Linked DNA regions of Homo sapiens. The protein of the gene in region 2 purifies or fractionates together with the protein of the main gene of each other region. This does not show direct contact. Each region holds a gene or a part of one and is shown on either strand. Other genes may lie near its edges.

Evidence for each region. Proteins that work in one complex are often made in the same cells at the same time.
Region 1: the proteins of F2RL1 (region 2) and SLMAP purify together in Homo sapiens (affinity purification with mass spectrometry; 3 studies listed by BioGRID and IntAct, with this or other methods). This does not show direct contact.

The regions. Positions count from the first base shown.
Region 1 is NC_000003.12:57,857,301-57,860,957, forward strand, and holds part of SLMAP (sarcolemmal membrane-associated protein), read left to right. Parts: intron 1-432; coding exon 433-528; intron 529-787; coding exon 788-859; intron 860-3,398; coding exon 3,399-3,539; intron 3,540-3,657. UniProt on the Homo sapiens protein: Associates with the striatin-interacting phosphatase and kinase (STRIPAK) core complex, forming the extended (SIKE1:SLMAP)STRIPAK complex.
Region 2 is NC_000005.10:76,828,916-76,832,465, forward strand, and holds part of F2RL1 (proteinase-activated receptor 2 preproprotein), read left to right. Parts: intron 1-3,550. UniProt on the Homo sapiens protein: Receptor for trypsin and trypsin-like enzymes coupled to G proteins.

The DNA of each region.
Region 1 (3,657 bases), on a different chromosome or scaffold from region 2:
TGACCCCCAGTAGATGCCTGAAATCACAGATAGTACCAAACCCTATATCTACTATGTTTTTTCCTATATATACACATACCTATGATAAAGTTTGACTTATAAATTAAGCATAGTAAGAAATTAACAATAATAATAAAATAGAACAATTACAACAGTATACTGTTATGTGAATAAAAGTTATGTGAATGTCAACATTCTGTCTGTCTCTCTCAAAATATCTTGTACTGCACTATAACTGAAACTGTGGAAAGGGAAACCAGAGATAAGCGGGGACTGCTGTATGTTTTACAAAGTACTATCAAGTTTCACTACTTTAAAATACATCAAGTGGGATGTAATATGAAAATATTTTAGAATATGCTGAAAATTGATCACTCCTCAAAAGAATCATGATGAGCTTATTAGAATCTGTTTTGTGATTTGTAATACTAGGAGGCCTTACATCGGGAACAAATGTTGGAACAGAAGTTAGCCACGCTTCAGCGGCTACTAGCCATCACCCAAGAGGCTTCAGATACCAGTTGGCAGGTATTCCAGTTGTTTTATATTTAAGAAACATTTAAACATAGTTTAATATTCCATACATGTTAAATAAACTAAAATGTAGCAAACAAAGACAAAGTTATTTCCTAACTAATGAACAAGTTGTTGAAGATTTAGCATTTTACAGTGGATGCTGGTCAGTTTTACGCTTTTATATCTTTTGTTGTCAGTAGCAACCTTTTTTTATATACATGTGACTTTATAATTACTCGGGTTTTACTTACATTTAATTTTTCTTCAATAGGCTTTAATAGATGAAGATAGACTCTTATCACGGTTAGAAGTTATGGGAAACCAATTACAGGCATGCTCCAAAGTAGGTATTAACCTCAAATGTGTAAAATGAAATGCATAGTTTTTTATGTAACATCATTTCTTTGACTATCATTTTGAGTATATGCTAAAAACTTCATACATTTCCACAATTCTTTTAAATCTTTTGTGCTGAGAAACGTCAGACATCCATGTAAATAAAAATAATTACATAATGAATACCCATGTACAAGTCTGTCTTTTTTCTATTGCAGTTAATATTTCTTGAAAAAACTGGGTCATTTGTCCTCTAGAATTTCCCTCAGTCTGCATTGTTATTTAAACATTTTTTAGCTCCCCCTCCCACTCCATAAAGTAGTAGTTCCATCTAGAGATTTGATGTGATTTAGGTTCAGTTTTTCTTTTTGTCAACAACACTTTATGGATGGTATTGTGTTCTTCCACCAAGGGACAACATAATGTCTAGTTGTCTTTCTTTTTGAGATTTTTATCAATCATTGATGATCCCAGGCTAGATCCATTATTTCATTACGGTTACAAATAAGGCTGGGCGCAGTGGCTCACACCTATAATCCCAGCACTTTGGGAGGATGAGGCGGGCGAATCACCTGAGCTCGAGAGTTCAAGACCAGTCCAACCGACATGGAGAAATCCCATCACTACTAAAAATACAAAATTAGCCGGGCATGGTGGCACATGCCTGTAATCCCAGCTACTCAGAAGGCTGAGACAGGAGAATCCCTTGAACCCAGGAGGCAGAGGTTGCAGTGAGCCAAGATCGTGCCATTGCAATGTAGCCTGGGCAACAAGAGTGAAACTCTGTCTCAACAACAACAACAACAACAAAAAAGTTACAAAAATAATGATGTAATTCTGTTATTCCTTCACTTATTTAGCTGGGTTACTTCTATAAAGAGAAGTTTCCTTCCATACACAGTGGCTCATGCCTGTAATCCTAGCACTTTGGGAGGCCAAGGCAGGCGGATTGCTTGAGGTCAGGAGTTCAAAACCAGCGTGGCCAACATGGCGAAACCCCGTCTCTACTAAAAGTACAAAAATTAGCTGGACATGGTGGCATGTACCTGTAATCCAAGCTACTCAAGAGGCTGAGACAGAATTGCTTAAACCCGGTGGGGGTGGAGGTTGCAGTGAGCCAAGATCGCACCTCTGAACTCCAGCCTGGGCGACAGAGCGAGACTGTCTCAAAAAAAAAAAAAAAAAAAGCGGGGGCAGTTTGAGACCAGTATGGGCAACATGGCAAAACCCAGTATCTACCAAAAATTAAAGATTTGCTTAGCATAGTGGTACATAACCTGTAGTCCTAGCTACTCGGGAGGCTTAGGTGGAAGGATCGCTTGAGCCCAGGAGTTTGTGATTACAGTGAGTTATGATCGCAGAACTGCGCTCCAGCCTTGGTGACAAAGAGAGACCCTGTCTCTAAAAAAACGAAAAAAGGAAAAACAATGGCCATTGTTTTTTGTAACTTTGGCATCAAAAACCAAATACCACATGTTCTCATTTATAAGTGGAAGCTAAGCTATAGGTATGTAAAGGCATAAAGAGTGCTATAATGGACATTGGAGACTCAGAAGTTGGGAAAGTGAGAGGGGAGTGAGGGATGAAAAACTCCCTATTGAATACAATATACACTACTCAGGTAATGAGTGCACTAAAACCCCAGACATCACCACTACATAATTCATCCATGTAACCAAAAACCACTTGTATCTCTAAAGGTATTGGAATAAAAAAATTTAAATAACCCTGAGGTATGTTTTCTACGGGGAAAGCAAGATAAGTGATTTTCTCCCCTTATTTATTAGATTTCAGAATAATGAATTGGTGGTTTTTCATCTACCAAAGACTGGCCATGAAGTGTTTTCTCACTCCACTTAGATTTAAACATATTTGATGTATTTAAATCTGGTGCAGTTGTTTTTCTTGTTTTAGAGACAGGGTCTTGCTATGTTGCCCAGGCTGGTCTTGAACTCCTGGGCTCACGCAATCCTCCCATCTCGGCCTCCCAAAGTGCCACGGCCAGCCTATTTTTCTTATTGATGCTCAAATTATCCCATCTTTGGTCTGTGTAAATGTCTTCAGAGTGATAGCTTCATGCTGTCATTTCAGACAAGATGTTTCAGGCTCATTTTGTACTTTTCCTGCCCCAGACATGAAGTCTGCTTTTCCCCCATGGTACTCTTATTCCTTTTGTTTTAACCATTGTTTCAGAATGCTTGGTGCCTTTGAAGGTAATTGATTATTTTTGCCTACAAATGTGAATATGGTGGCTTGCAGAAAATATGACAAATATAAAAGTAACTAATTTTGTATATTTTAGGGAAATTCTCAATTGCCTATAACTTTTTTTTTCTATAGGAAGTGGAAATTAGTAAGTTTGTGAAGGCATAATTTACTTATGCAACTTGTAAATACATCTTTAGTTAATACAGGGCCAGAATCATTTATGTTTGGAGGTACCTTAATATATAATTTAAAGTATATCATAATGTGTTAATTTTTTTCAAACAATAAATGCTTTTAAAAAATAACTTGTCTATAATTATAAATATCTTTTATTGTAGAATCAAACAGAAGATAGTTTACGAAAGGAACTTATAGCATTACAAGAGGATAAACATAACTATGAGACAACAGCCAAAGAGTCCCTGAGGCGGGTTCTTCAGGAGAAAATTGAAGTGGTTAGAAAACTTTCAGAAGTTGAGGTATTTCAATCAAAAAAAAAATACTAAATAGTATTATGAGTGTTCAAAAAAATCTCAAGCATTCCAGGATACTTTAAACTTGGGTATTATTATATAGTTAGGAAATACTTTCTGTCTG
Region 2 (3,550 bases):
GACCAGCTTGACCAACATGGTGAAACCCCATCTCTACTAAAAATACAAAAATTAGCTGGATGTAGTGGTGTGCACCTGTAATCCCAGCTCCTTGGGAAGCTGAGGCAGGAGAATTGCTTGAACCTGGGAGACGGAGGTTGCAGTGAACCAAGATCGCACCACTGCACTCCAGCCTGGGCGACAGAGTAAGACTCCATCTCAAAAAAAAAAACAAGTTATTTTTATGGTTTGTTTGAATCAGGATTGAAACAAGGTACACACATTATATGACTGATATGTCTTTTAAATCTTCTACTCTATAAATTTCACCTCCACACCTTTTTTTTACCTTTGTTCTTCTTCTTCTTCTTTTTTTTTTTTTTGAAGAGATGGCATTGTGCTATGTTGCCCTGGCTGGTCTTGAACTCCTGGTCTCAATCAATCCTCCTGCTTTGGCCTCTCAAAGTGCTGGGTATTGAAGGCATGAGGCACTGTGCCTGGCCCTCTTTCTTATTTTTTGCCTTATAATTTATATTTTGTAAAAAACAGGTCCTTTATCCTGTAGCAGTTCCCAGAGTCTCAATTTTACTGACTACATTTGTGGTGTTGTTTAACACTTTGCCCCCTTCATTTCCATTAATTTGGTGTTGGATAATTTCCACAATAACTGCACCAGTTGCTCAGTCTATAACACTAATCAAGCACTGAATCCAACACCAAATTAATTTCCAGTATGTTACTTTCTAATTGTTACATACATTGTCATTCTAAGTTAAGTGGCCTGTGAAATCAGTGTTAAAGAATAATAACTGGCTTTTTATAATAATGGAATAGAATACAATAGAAAGTATCAGTGCACCCTATGTAATAAGAATAATTATTATTTTGTGAAACGTTTTTCCACCATGGATATGTGTATTGGGAACTGGGTTAGTATGTGGAATATGGTTCTTAGGGGTTATGGTCAAATATTTGAAGAACACTGTAATATGTAGGAATTTTTTTTAAATTTAAAAACAACATATGTTCTTTTTGAAGAATTATATAAAAAAAATAGAACCACTAGAAATAGGACTATCCTAAGCATATTAGTTTCTTGTGGCTACCATAGCAAATTGCCATAAACTGATGATGTAAAACAACACATTTATTCTGTCAGTTCTGGAGACCAGAAGTCTGAAATCAAGGAATTGGGGCCACAAGCCCTCCAAAAGCTCTAAGGGAGAGTCCATTCCTTGCCTTTTCCAGCTTGCAGTGGCTGCTGGCATTTCTTGGCATTCTTGGCCTGTTCCTTGATGTGACTCCAATCTCTGCCTCCATTCTCATGTCACTCACTCCTCTGGCTTCTCCTTTTCTGCGTGTTGCAGATCTCTTTCTGCTTTTCTCTCTGTTTTGTTGTTTGATACAGACTTTAACTCTGTCGCCCAGGCTGGAGTGCAGTGGCGCAATCTTGGCTCACTGCAACCTCCGCCTCCCAGGTTCAAGCAATTCTCCTGCCTCAGCCTCCCAAGTAGCTAGAACTACAGGCGCCTGCCACCACGCCCGGCTAATTTTTGTATTTTTAGTAGAGACAGGGTTTCACTATGTTGGCCAGGCTTGTCTTGAACTTCTGACCTCGTGATCCACCCACCTCAGCCTCCCAAAGTGCTGGGATTACAGGCGTGAGACACCACGCCAGGCCTCTGCCTTTATCTTAGAAACGACACTTGTCATTGGATTTAGGGCCCGCCTAGATAACCCAGGGAGATCTTCTTATCTTAGGATCCTTAATTCTATCTGCAAAGACATTTTTGCTAAATAATGTTCACAGAGTCTGGCGATTAGGACATAGACTTCTCTTTTGGGGGCACCACCTTTCAACCCACTACACTAAGTGAAAAGTGAAATATTGATCTCTACATCCCCCAACACTCCACCCAGGCTAGCATCCCAAATAGGGAAGCATTAAGATGTGAAAAATTCTGCGGAACATTAGTGTAAAGCTTCTAGTGGAAAAATGATGACCAAGCATAACATTATGAGATAAGAGCATGAGTAGGTTTAATATCCCCCTGGTATACGGCAGTGCAAGTATTGCCCTGTCTTCTCTGCTTGGTGAGGCCTACTTTTCCCCAGAATTAGAGTAAAATTATTCAGTATCCTTATATTGTCCTTACTTACTCCTGCAGGTTCATGAATACTTAGGGGCAGAATGTAGGGAGGACATGCCATTCATTTCTTTGTGGTTTTTAGGTCAACTTCATAATATAAGAGAGGGATAATAAGTTAGCTTGTCATGCTACATGCTTGAAAGTCTGTCATCAGTACAGCCACCTATCCAGGCCAGACGGTTTCCCTGCCAGTTGGCCTCCATGGGACATTCTCCAGGAAACCAGCACATGAGCAGGGAAAATCCCTGCCATTGTTGAGGCTATCGTTGTGGGTGAAAAGGGAATGTCCCTTGTGGTCCTGGAATCTCCCTGTGGCAAGCTCTGAATAGGGTATGATGAATTGAATAGGCCAGGAAGGATCCTGGCTCAGGGCTAGAGTGGGATAGAAGGCCATTATGAAGTGAGAAATTAGAAAACTGGTGTCAGGATGGGGATCGCTATTTTACACACTTGAGAATTTAGAAAGGAATTACTGCACATTCCTAAACTGATTTTTTTTTTTTTTTTTTGACTGAGGCTCGCTCTGTCACCCAGGCTGAAGTGCAGTGGCATGATCTTGGATCACTGCAACCTCCACTTCCGGGGTTCAAGCGATTCTTCTGCCTCAGCCTCCCAAGTAGCTGGGATTACAGGCGCCTGCGCCTGGCTAATTTTTGTATTTTTAACAGAGTCAGGGTTTCGCCATGTTAGCCAGGCTGGTCTGAAACTCCTGACCTCAGGTGATCCACCTGCCTTAGCCTCCCAAAGTGCTGAGATTACACGCATGAGCCACCATGCCCAGCCAAACCAAATTTTACTAATTGATAAATCAAAGGACTGTTGTTGGTCATGTGATAAGAATAGCTAGAGCTGGGCGTGATGTCTCACACCTGTAATTCCAGCACTTTGGGAGGCCAAGATGGGAGGATCACTTGAAGCCAGGAGTTCGAGACCAGCTTAGTCAACATAGCAAGACCCCATCTCTAAAAAAAAAAAAAATAATAAGTAAAATAAAAAGAATAGCTGGGGACTAATGAGTGTGGACAGTTTGTAAAAATAAATTGAAATATTGTTAGTCTTCTTTATATTCCTAGAAATCGATGCTCCACATGCATCCCACAACTCCTTACAACTCCCCGATACAAAAATACTCACTGTAAGAAAAAAACCCATAAAACCAAACTAAACCAGACAATAGAAATCCCAATAATCTCATTACACAAAGAAAAGCCCCTATAAGCATTTTGTGTAATCCTCTAATAGTACATTTCTGTTTTCATCTAAAGTACTTTCATTTGAGGCTGGGCTCAGTGGCTCACACTTGTATCTCACCACTTTGGGAGGCTGAGGCAGGAGAATCTTAAGGCCAGGAGTTTGAGAACAGCCTGGGCAACATAGTGAGATCCTATCTCTACAAAAAGTAAAAAATTAGCTGGGTGTGA